Linked DNA regions of Homo sapiens: all the other regions are linked to region 3. Evidence: fine-mapped expression QTL. A gene starts in region 3. Each other region holds a variant in brackets. All regions are shown on one strand. Distances are from middle to middle.

Region 1 (7,609 bases), 140 kb after region 3:
ATACAAAAAATTAGCCAGGCGTGGCGGTATCAACTGCTGTAGTCCCAGCTACTCGGGAGGCTGAGGTGGGAGGATCACCTGAGCCCGGGAAGTTGAGGCTGCAGTGATCCCTGATCATGCCACTGCATGGGCAACAGAGTGAGATTCTGTCTCAAAAGTAATGATAACAATAAAAAACTTGGAATTCTATACCTAGCCAGAATATCATTAAAGTTTGAGGATAAATAAAAACATTTTTAGATATACAAAGACTCAGAAAATTTTCCATCCACAGATTCTCCCTTAAAACAATTAGGAATAGTATTAATATATTCCATGCAGAGGAAAATGAATCCAAGAGGATAAAGTATTCTACAAAAGATTTGATGGGCAAAGAAATTTGTGAGACATATTGTTAATTTTAAGTAGTGCTATGGCCTGTGTGTTTGTGTCCCTCCAAAATTCATATTTTGAAATCTGAACCCATAAGGTGACGGTATTATGAGGTGGAGTCTTTGGGGAGGTGATTAGATCATGAGGTCTCCAGTCTCAGGAATAGGATTAGTGCCCTTAAAAAAAAAAAAAAAAAAAAAAAAAAAAAAAAAAGAAGTCCTAGATCATACAGTATTTGTCTTTCCTTGTCTGGCTTATTTCACTTAGCATAATGTCCCCAGGTTCATACGTGTTGTCACTAATGGCATTATTTCCTTCTTTTTGTGACTGAATAATATTTCATTGTATATATGTATTAATATCACAATTTCTTTAATCATTCATCCATTGATGGACACATCGATGTTTCTATATCTTGGCTATTGTGAATAATCCTGCAATAAAAATGGGGGTATAGATATCTCTTTGAGATACTGATTTCATTTCCTTTGGGTATATACACAGAAGTGGGATTGCTGGATCATATGACAGTTCTATTCAAAGGGTTCAAACTTTTAGTTATAAGATGAACAAGTTCTGGGAATCTAATGTACAGCCTGTGTGGTGATGGATGTGTTAATTAATTTGACTGTGGTAATCATTACACAATGTATACATCTATCAAGTCATCACATTGTACACCTTGAATATATTCCATTTTTATTTGTCAATTTTATTTTTAAAAGGCCCCAGAGAGCTGGCTAGTCCCTTCTGTGGTGAGAAGGTGCCACCTATGAGGACTGAGCCCTTGCCAGAGTCTGAATCTGTCATCACCTTGATGTTGGACTTCCTAGCTTCCAAGAATAAATGTTTGTTGTTTGTAAGCCACCCAGATTATGGTATTTTGTTATAGAGGCCTGAGTGGACTAAGACAAAGGAGTAGGTTATAAAACAAGAATGTTCATAACAATCTTGAAGAAGATTCCAGGAGATACCAATATAAGAGTAATGGGAAGAATAGAGGGAGGAAGAGAGAAGGGAAAGGAAAGTATGATAATGCTAAGGTTCTTATTCTGCTTGGGAGAACGATATGGTTAAAAATTCATACTTGTCATTCATTCACTCAACAAAAATTACTGAGCACCTACTAAATGGCATACCCTACAGTAAGCACTAGAGATATATTAGTGAATGAGTGCTCAAGTCATTGCCCCTCCAGGAGGAGGGAGAGAGACAGCAAACATAATAAATACATAATTTATGGTGTACATAAAAAGGTGGTTAGTACTGGTGGGGCGAGGTGGCTAACACTTGTAATCCCAGCACTTTGGGAGGCTGAGGTGGGCGGATCACGTGAGGTCAGGGGTTTGAGACCAGCCTGGCCAATGAGGCGAAACCCTATGTCTACTAAAAATACAAAAATTAGCCAGGCGTGGTGGTGGGCACCTGTAATCCTAGCTACTCGGGAGGCTGAGGTAGGAGAATCACTTGAACCCTGGAGGCAGAGGTTGCAGTGAGCCAACCAAGATTGCGCCACTACACTCCAGCCTAGGCGACAAGAATGAAACTCCATCTCAAAAAAAAAAAAAAAAAGTGATTAGAGTACTATGACAAAACAAAAGAGAGTGAAAACATGTATTTTAAAATGAGTTTAAAATATGATTTTAAAATACATGTTGCAAAAACTGAAAGAACAGCAAGCAGAAATGAACAAATCTATAGTTGTAGGTAGGAAGGGATATTTAACATATACCTCTCAGAAACTGAAAGACAATGGAGGTTAAAAAATTATTGTGTCTTGGCTGGGTGTGGTGGCTCATGCCTATAATCCCAGCACTTTGGGAGGGCGAGGTGGGAGGATCACTTGAGCTTGGAGTTCGAGACCAGCCTGGACAACATGGTAAAACCCTGCCTCTATAAAAGAAATACAAACATTAGCCAGGTACGGTGGCCCATGTCTGTAGTCCCAGTTACTCAAGAGGCTGAGGTGAGAGGATGGCTTGAGCCCAAGGGGGTGGAGGTTGCAGTAAGCCAAAATCATGCCACTGCACTCCAGCCTGGGTGACAGAGTGAGTCCCTGACTCAAAAAAAAAAAAAAAAAAAAAAATGTGTCTATAGAATATTTGAATAAAACAGTGAATGAGCTTGGCCTAATACATATTCTTTTAGGTTGAGTTCCCCAGAAGCAGACCCTGAGACAGGGATTGGGAGAAATGTGATTTATTGAAGGAATGATCTTCAGGGAAACAAGAGCCTCTACAGGAGTAAAAAAAAAAGCAGAAAAGAGAAGGGGAAAGTACCCAGCAAGATCTCAGCTAAATTCTATTTTTGGTCTCATCTGGAGTGGGGAAGGAGGCTTGGAATGTTCCAATCGTATTACAGAGTTGTCATGCCTTGAAGCAAGTAAGGAAAACACAAAGGCTGAGGAACTGTTCCATATAAGAGAGACTAAACAGAAGTGAGCACTAAATTCAATACATAATTCTGGTTTGGATCCTGAAGAACGAAAAAATATAGTAATAAAGGACATTATTAGAACAATTGCCAAATTTTGAATAAAGATTGGAGATTAGATAACAGAGTTGTATCAGAGTGAAATTTCCTAATCTTTGATCATTGTACTATAGTTATAAAATGAAATGTCCTCATTCACAGAAAAAACATACTGACATATACAGGAGTTGCTATGATTTGAATGATTTGAATGTGTCTCCCAAAAGTTAATGTGTTGGAAACTTAATTGCCATAGTAACAGTTTTAAGAGATGGGGTCTTTAAGAGGGCTCAACCCACATGAAGGGATCAATGAGCTAAGAGGGCTTAACTCACATGAAGGGATCAATGTTCTGATCATGGGAGTGGGTTAGTTATCATGGGAATGGATTCCTGATAAAAAGGATGAGTTTTGCCTGATTTCCTCTCTCCTCTCTCTGTCTCATATTCATGTCTCATCAGTATGTGATACCCTCCACCATGGGATGAGACTCTCGCCAGATGCTCTTGGACTTCCCAGCCTCCAGAACCATGAACCAAATAAACTTTTATTCTTTATAAATTACCCAGTCTTTGGTATTCTATTATAGCAACAGAAAACAAACTAAGACAGGGGTAAGGGGGCTGATGCCTTCAATTGACTCTCAAATTATTTAGAAAATAATGTATACATGTTTATAAAAAAAGAGCATAAATGATAAAGGAAATGGGAAAAATAACAATCTATATAAAGGGTATGTGAGAGTTTATCTTACTATCTTTACAATTCTAATAAGTTTGAAATTATATCAAAATACAAAATCACAGAAGGAAGGAAGGAAGAGAGGGAGGGAGGGAGGAAGAGAGGGAGGGAGAGAAAAAGGGAGGAAGGGAGGAAAGAAGGGAGGGAAGGAGGGAGAAAGGAAAGGAAAGGAAAGGA[AAGGAG/G]GGAGAGGAGAGAGAGAGGGAGGGAAAAGAAAAAAAATAAGTGTTGGTGAGAATGAAAGGCAACTGAGGCCAGGTGCAGTGGCTCACACCTGTAATCCTAGCACTTTGGGAAGCCAAGGCAGATGAATCACTTGAGATCAGGAGTTCAAGACCAGCCTGGCCAAGATGGTGAAACCCTGTCTCCACTAAAAATATAAAAATTAGCTGGGTGTTGTGGCTCACACCTGTAATCCCAGTTACTTGGGAGGCTGATGCAGGAGAATCACTTGAACACAGGAGGTGGAGGTTGCAGTGAGCTGAGATCACACCACTGCACTCCAGCCTGGGAGACACAGCCAGACTCACACCTGTAATCCCAGTACTTCGGGAGGCTGAGGCAGGTGGATCATGAGGTCAGGAGATTGAGACCATCCTGGCTAACATGATGAAACCCCGTCTCTACTAAAAATACAAAAAAAAATTAGTCGGGCGTGGTGGCAGGTGCCTGTAGTCCCAGCTACTTGGGAGGCTGAGGCAGGAGAATGGTGTGAACCCGGGAGGCAGAGCTTGCAGTGAGCCAAGATTGCACCATTGCATTCCAGCCTGGGCGACAGAATGAGACTCCGTCTCAAAAAAAAAAAAGAATGAAAGGCAGCTGGAAATCAGCATCACTGATGGAAACGTAAACTGGTACAACCACTCTGGAAAACTGTTTGGCAGTATAAAACATACATATATTCTATTCTAGCAGTTCCACTCCTGGCATATATATCCCAAAAAAATAAATGCTTATGTCCACCAAAAGACATGTACAAGAATGTTCACAGCAGTGTTATTCATAATAGTAAAAAACTGGAACCAACCCAAATGTCCACAATAGAAGAATGAATATATAAATTGTGGTCATTCATACAGTGAAATACTACGTAGCTATACAAAAAGAGTAAACCACTGCTACCTAGAACATTACGGATAAATCTCACAAACATAATGTTGAGTGAAAAAAGTCAGGCAAAGAGGAGCACACACTGTCCAATTCTAGTTACATGAAATTCAAAATGAGACAAAATTAACCTGTGGTGACACAGGTCAGAGTACTGGTTACCTCTGCGGGGGTATCAATGAAAGAGGCACCAGGGAGCTTGCTGGGGTGCTGGAAATGTTCTCTATCGTGATCCAGGTATACAAATATATAGCAATACAAATACAAATGCAAAAAATTCAACAACTTTACAGTTAAAATTTGTCTACTGTATATGAATTATACCTTAATATACAAAATTGACTACTGAATTTCAAAAAGTTATAACTATTTTTATAACATTAAAGGTGGGATTGAGGAACTGAGAGGTAGAGAAAGGCTGTGGAGCAGCTCACCCCCATCTCCTGCCTCATTCAGCTTGGTACAATGGCAGGTCCAGCATTTATTGTCTGGAAGCTAAAGGCCACTGCCTCCTTTTCACTCCTGCACCTTGGCTTTAGGATCTTGACATTGCTAATGCCTTTGGCCCCTTTCCTCTAAACCTCCTAAAGAGAGACTATGAATTTCCTTTTTTAGCCACTCTTCTAAAACATCCAAAGAAGATATCACTGAAGAGTCCAATCAGTGCAAAGTCGTAAAAATGCAGAGGCTCTTTGTGTAAAGACGTTCAATAATATCCCTAGGTTCCTGGGATACATCAGTGAACAAAACAAAGATCTCTACCCTTGTGGAGGTTACAACCTATCATGAGACATTAGTAAAAATAGTAAGTAACTTATATAGTATTTTTAAAGGTGAGAAGGAAGACAGAAAAAGGAAAACAGAGTAGGATAAAGAGGACAGGTAATTCTTAGAAGGGGAAGGAATTTGACTATTTAAAATTTTATGAAAATGTTTTATTACGGGTATTTTTAAATATTTAAGATTTCAACCAGAGCAATCAACAGAAGTTATTGGTTCCTCCTAGGAACAGAAATTCCTTGCAGTCGGCCAGGCGCGGTGGTTCACACCTGTAATCCCAGCACTTTGGGAGGCCGAGGTGGGCGGATCACAAGGTCAGGAGATCAAGACCATCCTGGCTAACACAGTGAAACCCCATCTCTACTAAAAATACAAAAAAAATTAGCCGGGCATGGTGGTGGGTGCCTGTAGTCCCAGCTACTTGGGAGGCTGAGGCAGGAGAATGGCGTGAACCCGGAAGGCAGAGCTTGCAGTGAGCCGAGATCCCGCCACTGCACTCCAGCCTGGGTGACAGAGCGAGACTCCGTCTCAAAAAAAAAAAAAAAAAAAAAAAAAAAGAAAGAAAAAGAAAAGAAATTCCTTGCAGTTGAGGCCATTTTTGAGACTTCAGAGTTCTGTCCTTTGTGATTAACCTCCTCTGATGGAGTTTAGAGCAACATGTAGAACCCAAAACCTGGCTCAAGCCAGGCAAGGTATGCCTCCTTCACATTAATTAGTTATTTTCACAAAATCTGAGTGGGCCTCCTCTCTCAGAACCGGACTATCTACACATGGTAATTAGCCACAGTCCTGTGTGAATATCCAGCCCCACCTGACAACAAACCATGATAATAGACCATGGGCAAGAGGTCAGTACACAGGAGGGCCTCCCAGAACTCTAGGCAGGGGTTGTGCATCACAGATGCAACATATGCATAATTAAGAAGGACTCCATCATTGCATCCTTCCACTAACTACAGTGGCCTTCCAAAGGTTCAAGATAGGTTCAAAAATAAGCTCAGCAGCATAAAAGACCAGGATTCCTGTTCTCAAATTCCCTAATTCCCAAAGGTCAGCATAAACAACAGACAAAATAGACATTGATACATTCCTTCTCCTCCCTGCTCCTAGGTCAAGATCAACCCTTAGGGAAAGGTCTAGTTCAAGCCTCTGCACACCTGTTATTGATTCATCCATCCTAGAGCAGAAACTGCTGTTGCTGGGCAGGAAAATGGCTCTGATTCAACTGTAGAGTCCAGGTCATACAGTGGATTCCAGGAGAAACTTAACTAAGAGGAGGCTGAAACTCTGGGGAGCTCAACTTGGGGAAGAGGTCCACAATAAACTAAGAGCCTCTTACCAGTCGAAGAATGGATGTGCAGAGGTTTAGGCAACGATGGAGCAGCCGTAGAGCCTTATGCTTCTCCTCGGCTAGAGCCGTCTGCAGGTCCAGCAGCTCATAGCACCGATCCAGTTCCTGGGGTAGCCAGGACACAGAGTGTAGCTCCTGCAGAAGCCTAGAATCAAGGACTAAGCTGGTCAGAGCTGGCATCCCAATCCTTCCTTGGATACCTTTGACCTCTTCTCAGCCTAGCTTACCTCAGACTGCACAAATATTTATAGAGATTGTAATATTACCAACAGTGACCAATAGTGACAGCTCCCTCTCGAGAGTTCTCTGAAAGAGTATAAGCCCATAAAGCTGCTTTCTCAGCTATACAAGCTGAGAAAAGGCTTGGGGTATGTGCAAGTGCTTATACCTAGTGATCTCTCTGCTAGAAGAGAGGGTCAAATAGATACCAAGGTCTGACTTAGAAGGAGAGACAGCAGAGGCTTCTTCCTTGGAATAGAGAAAGCTAAAGGTCCTAAAAGTCTAGGTGGACAGGTAAGTTTTAGGATCAAATGTGATGAAACTGGAACTTCTCTGTGGGCTGCCCATCCCTGAGGAAGCCCAATCCTGTTATCCATACCTCCCAAGCCCCAGAGAACTCCACAACTGTAAACATCCTTGAAAAGGATAAAGACTCCTAATAATCAGACAGGATGGTCACAATGGGCATCATTTATTCAGTGTCTACTGAGAGGTACTGAATGTGGCACTTTGTATTCACAGTGTCGTTTAATTCTCATTACAGAATTAAATCTAGAAATCTTTATCCGA
Region 2 (7,609 bases), 250 kb after region 3:
AGACTAGGGGGTGTGAGTCAGTGACCAAATAGAGGCCTAGTTGCTCACTTGCCCCTGGGATGGTCACTGTGGGGGCTGCAACTCTGAACTACCTATGAAGCTTCTAGGAGTAGGGGGATAGTACTGCTGAAGAGCTGGGGCGGGTTTGCTGGGCAGTGACCTCAGCAAGGATGTTGGAGTGGCAAGAGGATTCTCAAGGATCATGCACTGGTGGAGACATTGTGAATTGAGGATAGAGGTGGGGGCCAGCCCAGGAAAGGGGCCAAGTCACTCTTTTACAACTGTGTTGCTATGACCATGAGGGCTGCAGAGAAGGTTTGTGCTCCTGCAGAAATGAGGCTAGAATTGAGCAAAAATTATATTCTCCTTCCTATTGTAGGATATTCATAGAGCTATGGATTGAATGCATAAATGCATGAATTCATGAATTAAATGAATGATGAATGAATAAACTTTACTACCTGTATTGAATTCATACTCTGCTCCAGGCCTTATCGTAAATGCTGGAAATGTATACTATGGGGCAAAGATGTTCTTACCTCCTGGCCTTCACAGCCTGGTGAGGAGACAAAGAAAGAAACAAGTGGTTATGATCAGTGCGATGAGCTCTCTGGGGCTGGGGAAGTACAGGAGGGGCCCCTGACCCTGCCTGTGAGAGTGGTGGGGGAGAGGGCAATGGGTCAGTTTTAAGAAGGGACCTGTATACTGATGTCTGAAGGAGAGGTAGGTGATAGCCAGGTGAAAATCGAGAGTAAGGGAGGTGGGCTGGGAGAGGACAAGGGGGCATGTCCCAAGCAAAGAGAGAGAAGGGGAGTGGCTGGAGGTAAGGCTGAGAGGCAGACAGGGGTTCATGACAGCACATAAAACCTGGGGAGGAATTTGGACTTTATCCTGAGGGCAGTGACAAAACAATTAAGAGGATTCCGTTGGAAAATTACTTGATTAGTTTAGCATCTCAGAAGAATCATTTGGGCTGTACTGTGCAGCTGAGATTGGAGGAGACCAGATAGGAAGAGAAAGACCAGTTATGATGTTTTTGCAATGATGCAGGTTAAAAAAAAAAAAGCTAGTAGCCTGGGCTATGTTAGTTATGTGGGGTGGAGAGAAGGGGAAAGCTTTAAGTCAATCACTGATTCCTGAGCAAGTGAGTACACCTGGCTTCACCACTAAGGCATTTGTGGATGAACGAATGAAGGAAGGAAGGAATGATACGTGAACATTTAATGTATTTTATATGTAAGTGTCGCATGAATCGATGCAGGAGTGAAGGTGTGCGTTCTGGAATAAATGCATGTGTGTGAAAGCAAAGGCCGGGGTGGGCTGCGCTTGGAGGGAGATGTGCCAAGCTCCAGAAGGGCCTCCCAGATGGCCAAGGGGGGAGAAACTGCCCTTCCAGGACAGATCGGAAGGATGAAGCTCTTTGAAGCAGGAAGGTACAGGCTGACAGGGATGGCAGATGGATTGGTGTGTGTGACTCAGTCAGGAGATGGTGAACTGGTCCCCAGATTCCAGAAGTGTCCAGCCAGCCCTCATGAAGCAGGCTGTGGCTGTGGAGGGCATGGAGGCCCTAGGGTGCTGTTCCTGGAAGGTTTTAGCAGGAGAGTCCTGAGGCAATGGAGGGTCTCTAGGGAACAGCAGGTATTCCCTGAGCCTCAGCTAAGTTTCAGGTGCCTATTGAAAACCTTATTCCATAGAGTGTGAGTTAGGGGGAAGTGGGGGTGAGGAGAGGCGGTGATGGCTGCCTAGAAGGTGGATGGGCAAGAGCCCCTCCTCTTTGGGTGTCTGTGGGCCCACGTCATTTGGAAGCTGAGGATGGTGAAGCACCCTGCCTGAATAACTCTCGTCAGGTGTGCAGCCACCTTGGCGTAACCACGCCCACTCCCAGCCCTGCTGTGTCTGGTTGCCCAGCAGCAGGGTCTTGGGACTGCCTGTCCCTTAGTACTGCCTCTTGGACCAGTCAGGATTCCTGGTTTCCCTGGTAACGGGAAGCACGTCAGCAGTCTGGGCGCTCCCAGCCGGTCCTGGTGCTGCGGTTGCCGAGGAGACGCTGCAGCCTAGCTGGGCCCTGGCAGGTGAGGGGTGGGGGGTGGTGCTGGGAAGCCCCAAGCCCAGCCTCAAGCTTGCTGGGGCTCAGGACCTCAAAGCCCACCCTTGGGTTCAAACTGCTGTGCAGGTCCTGGACAGGGGCGGGATCCCTGAAGGCCTTGAAACCACACCCTATTTATGCTGACAGCTATAGGCTCTGCAGGGCCCCAGGCAGCTGGGGTATTCCTTAGGGGCTGAGTCTCCTGGTATCCCTAAGACTGGGCTTGGCTTAGGCACTGAGGTAACCACTGGAGGGTGGGATGGAGATTCAGGATTGGGGGAGGGGAGCCAGGGCGAGGAAGAAGAGGTGTGAGCAGAAGGGGCTGGGGTCTCATGAACCTCCCTTTCTCCTCCCTTCCCCACCCCCCAAGGAGATTCCCTAGCATGGTGGTCCTGGCCCCTCCCTAGCAAGCTCCAAGCGGGGGAGGATCTTGCCTGGCAGACGCTCTGCCCTGGTGAGAAGGGGGCGGGATGAGCTTTTCTCTGCAGCCCAGCACCAGGCTGTGAGCCCAGCTGGCTGGGCTGGAGGGGCTGTGAGGAGGGAGGGTGGAGGCAGGAGGGGCCGGGAATGAGCGCCATGTTCTCCCAGGACTTTTTCCTGGCCATTATCCTGCAGGACAGCAGCGCAGGTGAGGGGCAGCATGAGGTTGGGCCTCATGTGGGGTGGGGCTGACAGGGAGAGAAGAGTTAGAGGACGCATGAGCGGGTTACAGGGTTGGAGTGGTGTGGCTCTGCCGGCAGACAAGGGTGTATGACACAGATGCGAGGTATGTGTGTATGTGCATGACATGTTTGCTTGCATCTGTGTGCAGCAAGGGTCAGGAAGTGAGCGTCTGTGGTGTCTGCACACATTTGGCAGGGTTTGACGTGTGCCGTGTGTCTGAGTGTGGGTCCGCCTGTGTGTGTGGTACCCACACGTGTGTTGGGGCCATTGTGGTGTGGTATCTGCACACCTGTGTGGCAGGGGCTCGTATGTTTAGCTGCATGCACACACACCTCTGTGGTGTCTGCATAAGTGTATGGCTAAAGTTTGTGTGTGTGTGCCCCTGCACATACATGTGCACCTGTGTGTGATACCTGCCATCTGTGCTGGCATTTTCTGTGTTGCATACCCTGGTGTTTGTGGCTGCACAGGTGTGTGGTAGGGCTTGTATGTGTTGTGTGTCTGTGTATACATGTACGTGTGCAGGAGCTAGAAAGTGTTCACCTTCGTGTTAACTGAGATAATAGATA[T/C]GTATGAAAGGAGGTTAATTGGGGTCACCCAACATTCATTGCTCCCTTCCTTCTTCCCTCCCTGCCTTCCTCCTTTCCACAGTGTGGCCACATTAGCCACCAACAGGGCCCAGGAGGAGACCTGAGCCATGTCCCCTACTGGTGGCCCCACATGTGGTGACTCCAGACTATAGGCTCTAGGCAGAAGCAGGAACTGTGTTGTGGTATAGCTCTTCCACCACCCCTTCTCAACCATGGGGTCTCAGAGGGGACCGGGCATAGGCACCAGCTGTCTGCTCTTTGGGTAGGCTGACCCTCACCAAGCCTCCCACCTGGCAGATTCCTTCTGGAACCCCAACGCCTTCGAGACGGATTCCGACCTGCCGGCTGGATGGATGAGGGTCCAGGACACCTCAGGGACCTATTACTGGCACATCCCAACAGGGACCACCCAGTGGGAACCCCCCGGCCGGGCCTCCCCCTCACAGGGGAGCAGCCCCCAAGAGGAGTCCCAGGTGAGGCTCACAGGCCTGTTGATTTTGGGCCAGGGGTGGAGGGAGTGTGTGCTGCTGGAGTAGGATAGGACACTCACTCACTACTCCCATCCCTCCTCCTAGCTCACCTGGACAGGTTTTGCTCATGGAGAAGGCTTTGAGGATGGAGAATTTTGGAAGGTGGGTAAGGGGACCTGCTTTACCACGGGATAGCTGGAGGAGGGGCATCATTTTGATACTGATTCCTCAATCCCCTTCCCAAGGATGAACCCAGTGATGAGGCCCCAATGGAGCTGGGACTGAAGGAACCTGAGGAGGGGACGTTGACCTTCCCAGCTCAGAGCCTCAGGTGAGCTGCCAGATGCAGTGAGCTGGCAGTGGGATGGATCTGTCTGGAAGGGGCCTTGGGACAGCTCCATTTATGGGAGCCCTGTGCCAAGTATTACCATCTGCCTTCAGCCCAGAGCCGTTGCCCCAAGAGGAGGAGAAGCTTCCCCCACGGAATACCAACCCAGGGATCAAGGTTTGTTCAAGACTGACACCCATTCTGAGTCTGGGGCCCTCTTATTTGTCAGACAGCCCCTAATGTTGTGCTCTGAGGGGTCTCAGCGCAGTTCCCCAGGTCCTGAGTTAGGAGTTCTTCCAGTCTCAGCACAGAGCCCTGTGTCTGAGCTGGAGGCACTTCAGTTTTTAAATCAACCAGCCCAACAGCCAGGTTGGGGGCCCTTGTAGTCTTAGTTCAGGTGCTTTTTTGTACTAGCTGGGGTCTCATCTGACATCTCCCTCACCCTAACCACATCCCCCTCTCCCTAACCACATCCTGTTTGGGGAGCTTCTCCGTCTTAGTTCAGAACACCCTGCCTCCTGCCACACTCTGTAGTCAGGAACTCTCCAGTTTTGACTCAGATCCTCTACCTCCTGCCCCTCTTCTGTGTCTGGCAGTGTTTCGCCGTGCGCTCCCTAGGCTGGGTAGAGATGACCGAGGAGGAGCTGGCCCCTGGACGCAGCAGTGTGGCAGTCAACAATTGCATCCGTCAGCTCTCTTACCACAAAAACAACCTGCATGACCCCATGTCTGGGGGCTGGGGGGAAGTAAGGACCTGAGCCGGGGGTAGGGGGTGGTACTGTGAGAGTGTGAAGGGAATTATGAGAGATGGGAGGTCTGACCTGCCCACAAGCAGGCTGGGGAAGGGGGATATTGGCCCATCCTAAGTGGCAGCCCTGTGGGATGGATGAGCGACCCCAGGCCAGGACCTTGGGAGATAGTCGCCTAACAACGGTGGAGTCAATGTGAGAGATGACACGTGACCTCCACTAGAGTGAGGCCTGCAGGGCGGGCGGTCTGACACCAAAGCAGGGGCCCCAGAGCTGTGGCTAACATCCCCTGAGCTGCAGGGGTCAGAGATCAGCCACCATCCTGGCTGGAGTCCCACTGAGTGCCTGCTTCTGGTCCTGCAGGGAAAGGATCTGCTACTGCAGCTGGAGGATGAGACACTAAAGCTAGTGGAGCCACAGAGCCAGGCACTGCTGCACGCCCAACCCATCATCAGCATCCGCGTGTGGGGCGTCGGGCGGGACAGTGGAAGGTGGGAATAGGGCTTGGGATTCGAGGGTGGGAGTTCATCCAGCATCAGAGTCCTCCTCTCTAACTCTGTTATTTGCCTCTCTTGTGCTGCTGGACCCAGAGAGAGGTACTATGCCTATTTTCCCCCTCCTACACCTGGACCAGATGCCTGGAAGCACCCAAGCTCCCCTCTTCTGCCCTGCCCCTTCCCACCCGCTATGCTCCACCATTACCCTCCACCTCAGCATGCTTGCCTGTCTACCCCTCCCCCCCAAGAAGGCAGCACCTATGGGGGACCAGCTGTGGGCAGAAGCCCTGGAGGAGCTGTGATGGGCAGGGAGGACGTGGGTGGGGTGGGGACCAGGCTCAGCACTGGATGGTACTGGGAGACACTGAGGTGCCCCTTCCCCAACAGGGACTTTGCCTACGTAGCTCGTGATAAGCTGACCCAGATGCTCAAGTGCCACGTGTTTCGCTGTGAGGCACCTGCCAAGAACATCGCCACCAGCCTGCATGAGATCTGCTCTAAGGCACGGCCCCCTCCACTCCCTGGACTAGTTGCCACCTTTGCTCTACAAGGGTGTGGGTGGGGTCACTGAGTGCTGTAGGGGGGCCCCAGGGCAATGAGGCTCTAATAGATTCTCCCTGGCTCCTCGCCTCCCTTCCTTCCTCAGATCATGGCCGAACGGCGTAATGCCCGCTGCTTGGTAAATGGACTCTCCCTGGACCACTCTAAACTTGTGGATGTCCCTTTCCAAGGTCAGTGTCAAAACCCCTCCAGGTCCAGCTCAGCTTTGTTGGCAAAGGTGGGTGACCCAAGGAAAGGCATGAGCTCCTGGACAGCGCTGATAGAAAAATGAACACATGAAGACTGAATACTCCAATACGTGGAGGGACTCCGGTTAAAGGGAGGCAGGGGACGAGATGAAAGTAGGGCCTCGGCTGGGCAAGTGTCCAGCTTATGCCCTGCTGGTGGGGCTGCGGGTGAGCAAGGTCTGCCACCATGATCAACCTTCTCTTCTTTCCCATAGTGGAATTCCCAGCGCCTAAGAATGAGTTGGTCCAGAAGTTCCAAGTCTATTACCTGGGGAATGTACCTGTTGCTAAACCTGTTGGTATGTGTGTCCTTCTATACCCAGGGGCTGCTACCTTGATCCTAAAACTCTGCCCCTACCCTCTGCCTTCCAATACTTCTTCTACCAGACCTTCCTCATGCTTGGTGTCTCCCTACCCTTTAAAATGCATCCCACCTCCCCATACTTCTGTCCTAGCTCTATTTCCTGTCCTGCCTATAGCAGCAGTCAGCACGCCTTCGCTGAGCATCAGCCACGTGAGTGGTGCTGAACCAGGCACAAAGGGAGACCCCACTCCTTCATCCCATGGAAAAGCTTTGGTGGGATTGGGAGGCTGATGTTAGATGACTGGAGGACACCAGACAGCAGCCTGTAGCTGGGTTTAGTGTTACAGCACCAGCTGTGGGCTGGGAGCATCTGGAGAAGGAAACAGTGAGCATAATTGTCACATACTTCATTGTTGCAAAGAATTTTTTTTTTTTTTTTTTTAAAGACAAGTCTCGCTCTGTCCGCCAGGCTGGAGTGCGGTGGCGTGATCTTAGCTCACTGCAACCTCCGCCTCCTGGGTTCAAGCAATTCTCCTGCCTTAGCCTCCTGAATAGCTGGGATTACAGGCTCCCGCCACCACGCCTGGTTAATTTTTGTATGTTTAGTGGAGACGGGGTTTCACTGTGTTGGCCAGGGCTGGTCTTGAACTCCTGACCTCAAGTGATCCACCTGCCTCGGCCTCTGAGAGTGCCGGGATTACAGGCGTGAGCCACTGTGCCTGGCCTGATCTGGTTAACTCTTATATTTCAGTGCTTTCCTAGTGTCTGCTATTTATTTGTTTATTCACTTAACAAATACCTTTGAAGCTTACCATGTGGCAGGCCCTGGACTAGGCACAGGGAGAACAGTGGCCACAGTCCCATTTTCCTAGAGGTTATAGAAGGTTATGGTAGAAAAAAACCAGGAATTAATAAAATAATCACACAAATAAATGTGTGAGTTATTCGTTGAGAGAAAGTAGCAAGATATAACAAAGGAATTTCATCTAGTCTGAGGTTGTAAAAGACTTCCCTGTGAAAGTGACATTTGAACTGAAATCCAAAAAATAAGTAGAAGTGAATGCGGTCAAGTGGAATGGAGGTGGGGGTGGGATGGGGGAAGATCAGGGTCTACAGTGGGAGGCACTTTGGCAT
Region 3 (7,609 bases):
CATGTCTTAAAGGCTGCCTAGATGCTCTTCTCACTTCATGCTCTCTGTGGGTGGCCACATCCATTCTCATGATTCCACTTACCACCTGCAAAATAACTGCTTTGAAATATCTACCCTCAGCTCAACTCTCTTCTGAGTTCCAAATTTTATACTCAATCACCTATTAGACATATTTATTTGGATATCTCACATACATCTTCGACTCTTATATCCAAAACTCAACTCACCATCTTACCTTTTCCCCACAAACCTGCTTCTCTATTGCTTCCCCAGCTTCCTAAGTAGCATCACTAATGTACGACCCAAGAACATGGAAGCCATCTTAGAATCCTCCCATGCTACACCCTTTACTTCTAGTAGTTTTATCCCTGTAATTTCTCTCTTATCTTACTCCTCTTTTCTAATCCTACTATCACTACCTTAATTTAGACCCTCATTATAAGCTGGGGAATAGCCAAAATTATGTTGATGACACGTAACCTGTCCATTTCATTTATCTTATTAAATAAACCCTTCAATGGCTCCTCAGAGCCTGGACCATTTGCATGACATATATTGTCCATGATTTGGCTCCATTTACCTTTCCTGTTTTTGCTTCCCACACTAGCCCATATGCTCAACACTCCAGCCAAGCCAGTTTGTGCAGGACCACCACCACTGAAGCCTGGATGCCACCCTTCATGGCCAGAGCTATTTTCTTTCATGCTCTTGTGATCTTGAACATGTCAGTTTATTCTGCCTGAAAGTCCTTTCTCTAACTTTTCCCTCTGCTATGCTTCTAATCCTTCAAATCCAGTTCCATTGTCATCTCTGTGACACTATTTGCTGATGTCCCAGCCCTGGTCTGGATTAGGAAGCCCCCTATATCCACAACCCCATGCTCTCCTCTATTGTACCTTCTGTTGTCAGTTGAGAGGTCTGTCTTCACAGCTTACCATGAGTTCCTTAGTCATGTCTTAATTTTTGTATCTTAACTATAAAGTTGCACATAGCAGGCACCTAAATGTATCTTCAATAAATGAAGGAAGCAAGAAAATAAATGAATTTGGATTCTTCTATTTGAAAAACTTCCTGACCCCCTAAAACTCCTATCCCTTACGCCAGTTATAGGTCTCTCTCCTCCCCTGTAGTTAGGCCTCCTTAAAGAATAAGCTCTACTCCAAGTCTTCAGTTCCTCACCTTCCACTCACTCCTTAGTTACTGAGTGCTAATTAGCCTTCATCCTTACCACTCCACCTACCACATTGTCCCCAAGGTCACCAGCCTGCCCCCTAGGCCCCAGCCAAATCCAATGGATACTTTTCAGTCCTTACCTCACTGGCCTCCTCTGTGTCATTCCAACCTAATGACCTCTCCTCACTTCATGGCTTCTTCTGTGGCCATTCCCTGGGCTTCAGTGGCACCACTCACCTCCCTTTCTTTCTCCTCCCTGTCTGGCCACATCCTCTCACTTTCCTTTGAGGGCTCCTCCTCTTCTCAACCTTTACATGTTGGAGCTTCTCAGCATCTGTCCTAGACCTTCTTTTCTTCCTAATGTACATGCTCTCCCTCTGTAATCTCATTCACTCCCTTACCTTCACTTACCATCTGTCACACTTACTATACAATACAGCTTACTGTATACAAAGCAACACAAATTGGGTTGTTGAGGACATTTCAGGTTAATGGGTCTTGCCCAAACAGTAATTTTTCATTTTTCCCAGTGAGAAGATCCAAAAAGCTTTTCAACCAACCTAGAAATGTAAACCTTTAAGGATGAGGATGAAACAATCAAAAGTGTACTTCTATGAGTTAATGGACTTTATTGGACATATATTTAAATTCATATATCATATAAAAATATATAACTGATAAATATTGTCTTTTCCATTCTCATAAATTATGAAGCAATTTTATGCATACTCAACACAAGCAGTGTCTTTCTCATCATTAGGATCACTTTTTCAGCCATCTTACATGTTTTCCCAGAACAGATGTCCTTCTCTTCAGTTTAAGCGAAGGGCTTGGGAGAGGACACAGCACAGTTTGAATTCACAGATGATGCAGTCCTTGGAAACTTTATCCTAAGTCACAAGTTTCCTTTGCATCACACTAGAACAGTTGGTTTTTTGCATGCACCCTGCCTGAGTATATTCATGACTTCAAAACATCACTTAATGTAATACTTTTTAAAAATTATATTTCTGTTAACTTTTTTTACTGAAATATAACATCTATATGGAAAAGGCCACAAGCCATCATAAATATTCAGCTCAATGAACTGTCAGAGTGAAACATCCCTCAGGTCCATATAACCACTCAGGTCAAGAAATAGAACATTTTCGGCAGCCCAGAAACCTCTTCCAAGTACTACTGTATTGCTTTTTAAAGCAATCTTTAAAAAGCATATTTTGAGACATCCAACACATGCGATTATGAGGTCATACTACCAGGAATAGTTACCAAAGCTGTGTTAAATTTCTTTGACTACAATACATCCAAAATAGCATTGTTGAGGACATTTCAGGTCAATGGGTCTTAGCCAAACAGTAAAAATAGTTAGCATTTATTGGACACTTACCATATAGTGCCAGGTATATAGTGCTTTATATATATTACATAATTTAATCCTTAGGCCCACTTTATAGATGAGAAAACTGAGGCAGAGACAAGTTAAGTAACTTTCCCAGTGCCACACAGCTTGTAAATAGGAGAGTCTGGACCCCGAGCCAGGGAGTCTGGCTCCAGAGTCCACAAGCTTAGTCACCATACCATACTGCCCTATCCAGTGGTTTGTTGTTCAAAATAAAGTAAATGAGAGCAAACCCTGTAATATGAGAGACCTTGTAAGGACTCAAATATAAGGTTACTCCCTCTTTCCTGAGGGATGATTTTGGAAAAACAAAAAAGCAAAAACTTCACCCTATATTCAAGCTTATACGGCATTTGCAGATGACTCCCAAATATTTATGTCCATCCCAGACCGCTCCTCTAAGTTGCAGACCTACCTACCCAACCAGCACTTCAAAGTCAGCAGCCCCAAGTCACAGTCATCATCTCCTCATACGAACCCCCTGCAGCCTCCTGCTGCTCCTTTTGTGGAGCACAGCCAGCCTCACCACCATCCATCCACCCAGCTGCCCAAGCGCCGTGGATATGATCAAGGACCCCAGTCTCTCCCTCACTCCTCTTCCAAAATCACACTCCCTTCTTCTTCAGCTGAAACTGTGTTCCTTCTCCACAGAAGTTCCTGATTTCTTTGTGCCATTTGTACACATCTCAAGTCCAGAAAACCTGTTTTTCTCACAGTCTACTCGCAGTCCTAAGGAAGAAGGACAGGAGTCAGAACTCTTCCCAGTTCCTTTAAGATTGCTTGCTCTTTGTCTCTGTCTGATTTCCCCTCTCCCCATATTCTCTCCCAAGTTGGTTTTTTGAGCCCCTTCCCACTTCCCTGCCCGGTTTCCTCCTCACTTAATTTTTCTAGGGAGTATATCGTGAGTGGGACCACCATCCCCAAAGCTCTTCTTTCCAATATCTCCCGATCTCTACCCTCAAATTTGGGATAAAGAGAAAGTGGGGGAAAGGGAGCCTGGGGGTGAAGGAGAGAAAAGAGACAGAAATCATGGGATAATGAAAAGTGACTAACAGGGGAGAAGGCCGAGGTTACGATGGAAGAAGGGGAAGAGACAGCGGGTAGTGAAAAGGGCAGGGGTGAGAAAAGGGAATGAGGAGAAGGCGTGAGGAAAAGGGGATGATGAGGTGAGGCGAAAGACACAGGGAGAAGGGGATGGGGAGAAAGGTGGGGAGAAGAGACGGGGAGAAAGGGATAGGAAGAAAAGGATAAAAGGAGAGGTGGGGAAGGAGAATCTGATGTAAAGAGGCTGGAGAGAGATCAAGCAGAAGGGGTAAGGAGAAGAGAAAGGGGAGAAGAGCTGGGGAGAAAATGATGGAGATGGGGCGAGAAGAAGAGGATGGGAGAAAGGCAGAGGGGAATGGAGATGACGGTTGGGAAAAAGAAGGGGCGAGAGGGAGACCAGGGCACTGAGGGAGAAGAGGGGAATAGGGGATGGAAAGAAGATGGAAGAGGAGGAGGTGAGCAGCAGGGAGCGGCGAGAAGGGGAAGAGACGAGAGGGCGTAGAGAACCGAATGGGAGGAGAGGACGGGAGAAGTGACGGGGAGAAGGGAAGGGAACCGGGACGGGGGCGCGGCGCGGCGCTGGGGCCGGATCCGGAGCCGGGGCCTGGGGCCGGGAAGTGGAGGGGCGGAGGGAGGCCGGGCGGGCGCCGGGGGGAAGGGGGGGCGGCGGCGCGGAGCGCGGGTGGGGGCGGGGGCGGGGGCTCCGCGGGCGGAGGGGCGGGGGCTCGGGTTACCGCGCGGAGGGCGGGGGGAGGGGAGGGGAGGGGGCGCGGGGCCGCGGCAGCGGAGCTCGCATCCTCGGCGGGGCGGCTGTGCAGGAGGCGGCGCCCGGGCGTCAGCGGACGGACCGATCGACGGCCAAGGGCGCGCGGACCGACGGCGGCTGCCCGGAGGGGATCGCGGGCCTCGGAGACAGCGACTGCGGACGATGCGCGGCCTCAGGCCCCGCGCGAGCGGGCGCTGCCCGGGGGGCTGACCGCGGCCGGACGGCGCCCCAGCACCGGGCGAGGGAGCCCGCGTCGCGCGGAGGTCAGTGCCCGCGCCCGCCCGGCCCGTCTGGCCGCGCCCGCCCTGCCCGCCGGCCTCCCCTGGGCTGCGGCAGCGGCGGCGGAGCCGGGGGCTTTGTTCTGAGCCGGAGACAATGGGGGAGGGGGGGCCTGGGCCTGCGGGACCCGGGCGGGCGTGAACGTGAGCGTGGGGGCAGGGCCTGGGGGTCTTTGTGTGCGTGTGTCATCGAGTCGGGGAGGGTGGCGGCGGGAGCGTGCGCCGGGGGTGTGGGGTGCGACAGCGTTGTGTTCCAGTGCATCGTCGGAGTGTGTCAGTGCGTGTCACTGGGAGGTTGTGTGTCCCTGGGCGTCTCTCTGGCTGTGTGTGCATGTGCGTGTCACTCTGAGGGTGTGAGGGTCAGAATGACCGTGTGTCATGGTGAGCGAGTCCCTGTGAGGGTGTGTTGCCCGCTCTGTGGGAGCCCATGTGTCAGAATGTGGAGGATGGGTGTGTGACAGAGACCAACTGAGACAGAGACAAAGAAACTGAGTGGGGAGAAGTACAGAGAAGCAGAGGAGAGGCAGGCACAGCCTGAAGTGGATGGAGGGGGGGGTCACCCAGACGTGTTCTGAGTGGGAGATTGGAGCAACTGGGAGTTTGTGTCTGGGATACCCAGCTCAGAATCCCGTGCAGGGGACAGAGCAAGGTCACCGCAGGCGTGGGTCCCACGTGGAGGGGGTGGGGAGAGGGAGGTCTAGAAGCACAATGAACTCAGTGTGGCGGGCTGGGCCCACAGCCACAAGGTCATAGGCCAGAAAAATATTGTCGCTTATGTCAACTTCTCAAATACCCATAGGGACACAGTCATAGCCCTACTCAACCCACAAGAGGACACAGTCCCAGGGAACACACATCCTCAAGAGATACCCTCACAGCCATCATACACTTCCAGGAAGCCCACCCCCAGGAAGCACCCCCAGTCAGAACCAACACACACCTACAGCAGACTCTATCAAGCCAACACACACCTACGGAAAATGCTCTCATGACAACACACACCCACAGGAGAAATGCTGCAACCAACATACTCCCACCGGTTCATTGTCAAGGCCAACACATACCATGGAAGACATTGTTACTGCTAACACTCTCCAGAAACACTGTCACCAGCAACAAACAAGTAGACCAGCACCTCTCAGGAGACATTGTCACTGCAATCCACATCCATCAGAAGCACTGTCACAACTGTCACAGCACATCTTATTAGGTTTACTTCCTTGGAGCTGCCCATACATAGTGGGTGTCCTAGAAGCCTGTCACTAACAGGAGGCTGTGCCACAGTTGCCCTTACCACACAGCCACTTGTACAACCCCCAGGAGACAGTCATGGATGGCATGCACACCACAGGAAGACCTGTCCCAACTTCTGAATAAACTCTGCTTAACTTATCAAGCTCACACCTTCACCCCTTCTCATACGTAGATCTCCCAGGTATACCCTCTTGTTCCCTGAAAACTTCGAGATCTGGATAGTGTATCCTGCCATGGTTTCTCAGTGTCCTTCAACACCACAGCTTCACAGATTCTTGACCTCCTTAGCTCCTGTTACCTTCCTCCCTCCCAGGACCACTCTGTAGAACTATTCCACCTTTAAAATTCTAAACTCTTGCATTCCTCTCTCTACCCACAACCTCCTATATCCTTCCAGCTTTCAGATGTTCTCGCTCCCATTACACTCTTTGACCTCATAATGACCTCTTGCCCTTGACCTCTTTGTTTTCTCCTACTCTGTTCCTTTCTGACTTTGTGCTTTCTTTCCAGCTCATATGCTAAGGATCATCCCTTCAACCACTCCTTGGCCACTGTGTTTCCTTGTCTTCTATACTCATCCCTCAAATTATTGCCCCTAACTAGAATGATTTCTCAACCACACCAGGGGACGCTTCTATAAATTCATACTTCTAAAAAATTCAAACCTCAACTGGGCCCTTCATAAATAAATAGATGATTTTTTTTCTATTTTCTTCACACTCATTACCCCACATCCCTCACACCATTGTTTTCAGTAGATTAATTAATCAAAACGCTAATTCATTCATTTAACAAACACATACTAGGCACCTACTCTGCTAGGCATTGTGATGAGAGTTGGCAGCACAAGTGTGAACAAAATGGACATGGTCCTTATCCTCATGGAGCTTACAGGCTGTGGAGTGAGTGTTGTAACACAGCAGCACACAGCAGAGTAACCTAGGCCAGTGTAGGGAGGTCAGAAGAGTCTTTCTGGAGGAAGTGGCATTTAAACTTAAACTTGATGGAGTGGGTGGAGAATATGCCAAGCCAAGGGAGCAGCATGTAAAAGCCCACATGAAGGAAAATAGTGTGTGTGTGAGGGATAAAGCAGTTCAGTGAGCCTGACACTTACAGCATGAGGTGACGAGAGAGGGAGAGTCTGTGGGAGAGGTAAATGGAGGCTTAGACCATGCAGGGTCTAGGAGGCCACAGAAAGAAATTCATTTAACCCAAGAATAATGGAGAGTCACCAAATCATTGGAAGCTTGGAGCGATATGATCAGATTCATTTTAGAAATACCACTCTGACAGCCATGTGGAGACTGGAGAAAGAGCCTGAGAAGAAGGACAGTTGGCTGTTGCAGAAACTCTGGAGGGTATAACACTGGCCTGAACTGGAGTAGTGGCCGGAGAGAAGGAGAAAGTGGATGGTTTCAAGAGCTCTTTAGGCAGTGGGATCAGCAGGGCTCAGTGACAAAGCAGACATGGTGGGGTGAAGGAAAGGAAGGAATTAAGAGTGGACAACCTGGTCTTCTGGCTCACTGAGGAAATTGAGGCCATCTGTTTTGAATTCCCTCAGATTTCTGCCTCCTCCCTCAAATTTTATCTGCATCCTCTTCAATCTTTTCTCCTTCCTTCCTATAAGAACGAAGTGCTGTCTCTTCTACTTAAGGCCAATCCTCTACCTGTGTTACGGATCCCATCCCCTTCCTC
Region 4 (5,000 bases), 27 kb before region 3:
AAAGACCCTTGGACTGTAAAAAAAAATTGTTCCGTTAATATCAGCCCACAGAAATTGCAGAGAAAGCCAGTAGTAATGCTGCAAAAACAAAATGTAAGGAAATTGACATATAAAAAAGAATCAAATTTTGAAGACTACCAGAAGAGACAAGAGATGACGGTCTTGTATTGCCAGAAAAAGTCAAAAGGACAGTGTTTGATGCTACAATTGTTTTTACCAAGTGTAAGCATTTTCTAAGACAATGGATCAATGTTTCATTTCACCTAATTTTTGCTGAAGAAGAACCTCTTCACAAGTTTTTACCAATAGAAATTTATGATAAATTTTCTGGTGGGCCGGGCACAGTGGCTCACACCTGTAATCCCAGCACTTTGGGAGGCTGAGGCGGGCAGATCACCTGAGGTCAGGAGTTCGAGACCAGCCCGGCCAACATGGTGAAACCCCGTCTCTACTAAAAATACAAAAAAAATTAGCCAGGCATGGTGGTGGGCGCCTGTAATCCCAGTTACTTGTGAGGCTGAGGCATGAGAATCGCTTGAACCCAGGAGGTGGAGGTTGCAGTGAGCCGAGACCGCACCATTGCACTCCAGCCTGGGCAACAAGAAAGAAACTCCGTCTCAAAAAAATATATATATATCCTGGTGAAAACATCTTAGTGAAATTTTTCAACTGCAAAGACAATTGAAAACTACAAGAATTGCTCCCAAAGAAACAAAACATGAATGGTAATTGTAATTTCTGTAATTTATTGTAAATTTCTTTAATTGTGAAGTGTGATTTGTATAAATCTGTCAATGTATTTATATGTTCATGACTTTTCCTATTTGCATATTTGTTCCTTCATATTAAAGAAACTTTTCAAAATTAAAATTAGCAAAGAAGTGTTCTTTGGTCACCTATAAGCTGACAAAGTGACAAATCTATACGTCTACTGAATATGTACATGTAAAGAGGAGTGAATTCATTTCCTAAGACTGCTGTAACAAACTATCACAAACTGTGGAACTTAAAACAACAGAAATTTATTGTTTTGTGGCTCTGGAGGCTAGAAGTAAGAAAGCGATGTGTTAGCAGCAGGGTCATGCTCTCTGACAGATCTGAAAAAGAATGCGTTTTATACCTTTCCCTTGGCTTCAGGTGTGCTCCAGCAATCCTTGGTGTTCATTCATTGATTTGCAACTGCTTGACTCCATAATCTCTGCTTTCAAGGTCACATGGCTTTCTGCCTGTATGTCTCTGTCTTTACCTGGTCAGCATCACCCTGTGTCCATCTCTCTCTCTTCATGCGCATTTTTTTTTTTTTTTTTTTTGAGATAGAGCCTCACTCTGTCGCCCAGTCTAGAGTGCAGTGCCCGATCTCAGCTCACTGCAACCTCCACCTCCCGGGTTCAAGCTATTCTCCTGCCTCAGCCTCCCGAGTAGCTAGAATTACAGGCATGAGCCACCACGCCCGGCTAATTTTTGTGTTTTTAGTAGAGACGGGGTTTCGCCATGTTGGCCAGGCTGGTCTCGAATTCCTGACCTCAGGTGATCCGCCCGCCTCGGCCTCCCAAAGTGCTGGAATTACAGGAGTGAGCCACCGTGCCCGGCCTGCATATATGTATGTACGTATATATGTGTCTATCTATCTAGCTAGCTAGACACTAGGCATTTTGGATTAGGCGCCCACCTATGCCTGCATGACTTCATCTTAACAAATGACATCTGCAATGACCCTATTTCCACATAAGGTCACATTCTGAGTTACTGCAGGTTAGGACTTAACATAGCTTTTTGGGGACGGGAAGAATCATGGGGAAGACACAATTCAACCCATAACAAGGAATAATTTTGACAGTCATTGCCAATTTGCAGATGTTAAGGCTCAAAAACAAACTATAATATTATTGTTCATTAACACATAAATGTGTAGGTATGTTTTTTCCCCTTAAAAAGACACACTGGTGTAATTAAAAACAATCTACTACTTTTCCCTTTAGTGCTGTAATTTTTTTAACTGGAGTGATTACTTCAATAAAAGAAAAATTTCACTATCTGCGTTTCTTTTCCGGGCATCGTTATTATCCATCTCACCATTACTACTGAAAATCACTGTGTTAAAAACAATGCGTACAGGTGTCAACCAGGCCAGCTGGCCACTGCTGGACCCGGTAGGGCCGTCAGCCCGCAGGACCCCGAACCCTCCGGGTGCCTTTCTCTTCAGACGCTCTCTTTCCCAGGAGTCTCCGCGGCGGAGCGCCCCATCGCCCTAAATGCCACTGGCTGACGCAGCCCCAAAAAAAACCCGATGGCCCGCTTATCCCACACTAGGGGGCGCCTGGTTCTTCGGCCGCCACAGAGCGCTCTGGATGCCTGAAGCCCGCCCAGCTCGCCGCCTCTGGAAAAGCTCAACACCGTTTCTCCGCCCTTCCCGAGATTGCCAACGAGGCAGGCTCTGATGCGCATGCGCAAACACGTTCACCACGCTCCGAGCTAAGGCGC[A/C]TGCGTTCCCTGAAATTGCCGCCACCGGCTCTACCTTCCAGTTTCCAGTTCCGGCCTCCAAGGGGCGGGCAGAAGTTGGAAACATGCGGCTGTCGGTCGCTGCAGCGATCTCCCATGGCCGCGTATTTCGCCGTATGGGCCTCGGTCCCGAGTCCCGCATCCATCTGTTGCGGAACTTGCTCACAGGGCTGGTGCGGCACGAACGCATCGAGGCACCATGGGCGCGTGTGGACGAAATGAGGGGCTACGCGGAGAAGGTGAGGAGCGCGGCCCTCTTGTCCACTCTGCGGGTCTGGTCTGAGGGGGCGGAGCCGGCTGCAAGTGGAAAGGGACCGGGACCAACCTGGTAAACCATTCCCCAAGTCTGAGTCCCCCAGAACCTTGGGCTGAACCCGCCCCTCCATCGCCTCTAATGGAAGACTGGTTAGGGCTGCGGAGTTAGGGGTGGCGTAGATTGGAGATGCTTGGCTAGTGGAAAGAATGGATTGCCTTCCGGCATTAGAGAAATTAGATTGGCACCTTGTTTTCTTGCTCGGTTGGATCCGTGATGTTATGTCCTCACAGCTCATCGACTATGGGAAGCTGGGAGACACTAACGAACGAGCCATGCGCATGGCTGACTTCTGGCTCACAGTGAGTGCGACCTATCTGCCTTCAAAATCCCACCCTTTGCTCCCTGGGGGTGGGGGTTGGAAAAAGGAGAACTATGCAGAATTAAACTTGGGTACTCACTTATGGGCCAGTGCTGCTAACTAAATTAGAAACTGTGTCTTAAGTTAGTTGAAGTCGATGTGAATATACCTCTGCACAACTGCCTATAAACGACCCCTTTGTGTAACACTGACTATGCCAGATTGGCGAGGGGAGGGGGAGGTCTTTCTATGTGTGGATGGACCTTACCTTTGGGAATGGTGTAAAGTTAAATGCCTCTGCAGTTTTGCCTGACTCTGCTGTCTCTTGGATAATTCTCCCTCTAGGAGAAGGATTTGATCCCAAAGCTGTTTCAAGTACTGGCCCCTCGGTACAAAGATCAAACTGGGGGCTACACAAGAATGCTGCAGATCCCAAATCGGAGTTTGGATCGGGCCAAGATGGCAGTGATCGAGTATAAAGGGAATTGCCTCCCACCCCTGCCTCTGCCTCGCAGAGACAGCCACCTTACACTCCTAAACCAGCTGCTGCAGGGTTTGCGGCAGGACCTCAGGCAAAGCCAGGAAGCAAGCAACCACAGCTCCCACACAGCTCAAACACCAGGGATTTAACTGGATCTGAAGAGTCTGCAGCCCTTAATCAGTACCCATGATCACAGGCCTTTGGAGCACTTTTACTCTCTGAGAAGAACTGGAGCTAGAGATGTAAAATGGACAGTCTTGATGGGGTTGAGAACCTTCTGGGGAGCCAGATGACCCTCTCTTTGCACAATAGATAAAAGTCTTTATATGAATATATATAAATTTATTTATTTTTTCCTTCCTGTGGGATTTCTGGAGAATGAGAATTATCCAAATGCTCAGTCTACCTGAGATAGTAAATTCATGGCTTATGCTTCTGGTCCTTAAATTTGGGTTATTTTTGGTTAGTGCAATTTTGTTTTTCTTAATGCCAGTTTACATGGGAATGCATCCTATAATTCCAAATGTTGCCAGAGGTGGTTGTGTTTTGACATCTGGTCTCCTAGAGATGAGTGCTTGGGATTTCTTAGAGAAAGATTACTTCCTGACAGGGGTAGGGGAGTGACAATCTGCAAGTGAAACTTCCTTAAACAATCTAGTACCCTGCGAACCTTCAGGGGATACTGCAATCAGTCCTCTGTTTTGAGGCAGGATCACACATTACCTTAATGTGTTCCCTTCAACCCCCTGAATGGGCCTGGGAGGAGAGGACCCAAGAACTCAGATGTTCCACCAGTTTGGCCAAAGGGGTGGAGACATTCAGCAGAGGATGTTGGGCTCCAGGATAAGCTCCTTCCTCTTGGTGAGGGGAAGGGGTAAGAAAGAGGGTCTATGCGAGAGAAGGATTAGGAAATTAAACCTCCTAGGAATTTCCTGGAAGTTTTTATTGTTGTCAAATCTGGCCTCTCTGGGAACCCAGAAAAGGGAAATCCGGCTTCAGAATGTGAGAAGCTGGGAGCCCCTTTCTTGGCACAGCCAGGCTGCCGTTCCCTTGGGTTCAGAGGCTTTAGTAGGGTAGTAGTTATGGAAGGACTTAGAAAGGAGCCATCAGTCTTGGTCCAAACACTTGATAGCAGTGCCTGATAATTGCCATATCCCCAGTAAAGTGGGTAGAAGAGATTTTATCTTAGGCTCTATCTTCTGAGTGTATTTGGCCCACTGAACCCATCCACTGTCTGAGATAATAAGTAAGAGTAAGGGTAAAGGGATCACTGGTGTAGCAGACATGGCTTCAGTGACAGAACGAACTATTCTGGTGCTAATTTAGCTGTAGCTGCCTTAGTCTGATACTCATCTACTCCCAACAGAGCTCTTTATCTCTTTTTCTCTACTATGGTTTGTTCTTCA

The links.
Region 1: its variant is fine-mapped to the expression of DCHS1 in whole blood (INTERVAL, PIP above 0.99).
Region 2: its variant is fine-mapped to the expression of DCHS1 in whole blood (TOPMed, PIP 0.93).
Region 4: its variant is fine-mapped to the expression of DCHS1 in whole blood (TOPMed, PIP above 0.99). The same link has a PIP of 0.9 or more in blood mononuclear cells.

Annotation. Positions count from the first base shown.
Region 1 is chr11:6,510,629-6,518,237 of GRCh38, reverse strand. DNHD1 (dynein heavy chain domain 1) reads right to left here. Exons shown (of 43, transcript NM_144666.3): 7 at 6,809-6,965. Among named protein-coding and RNA genes, the nearest start is that of DNHD1, 17 kb to the right of the region's middle. The variant AAGGAG/G (reference allele first, on the strand shown) is at 3,763.
Region 2 is chr11:6,399,850-6,407,458 of GRCh38, reverse strand. APBB1 (amyloid beta precursor protein binding family B member 1) reads left to right here. Exons shown (of 15, transcript NM_001164.5): 3 at 3,637-3,812; 4 at 3,915-3,971; 5 at 4,055-4,140; 6 at 4,251-4,314; 7 at 4,734-4,883; 8 at 5,250-5,377; 9 at 5,477-5,482; 10 at 5,771-5,885; 11 at 6,030-6,114; 12 at 6,387-6,470. Among named protein-coding and RNA genes, the nearest start is that of SMPD1, 13 kb to the right of the region's middle. RefSeq lists a silencer at 1,846-2,140. The variant T/C (reference allele first, on the strand shown) is at 3,319.
Region 3 is chr11:6,652,599-6,660,207 of GRCh38, reverse strand. DCHS1 (dachsous cadherin-related 1) reads left to right here and starts at 4,399. Exons shown (of 21, transcript NM_003737.4): 1 at 4,399-4,645.
Region 4 is chr11:6,680,861-6,685,860 of GRCh38, reverse strand. MRPL17 (mitochondrial ribosomal protein L17) reads left to right here and starts at 2,521. Exons shown (of 3, transcript NM_022061.4): 1 at 2,521-2,738; 2 at 3,046-3,114; 3 at 3,459-5,000. The coding sequence starts at 2,565. The coding sequence ends at 3,743. It also overlaps the pseudogene RPL21P94. RefSeq lists enhancers at 2,361-2,800, 2,217-2,979. The variant A/C (reference allele first, on the strand shown) is at 2,482.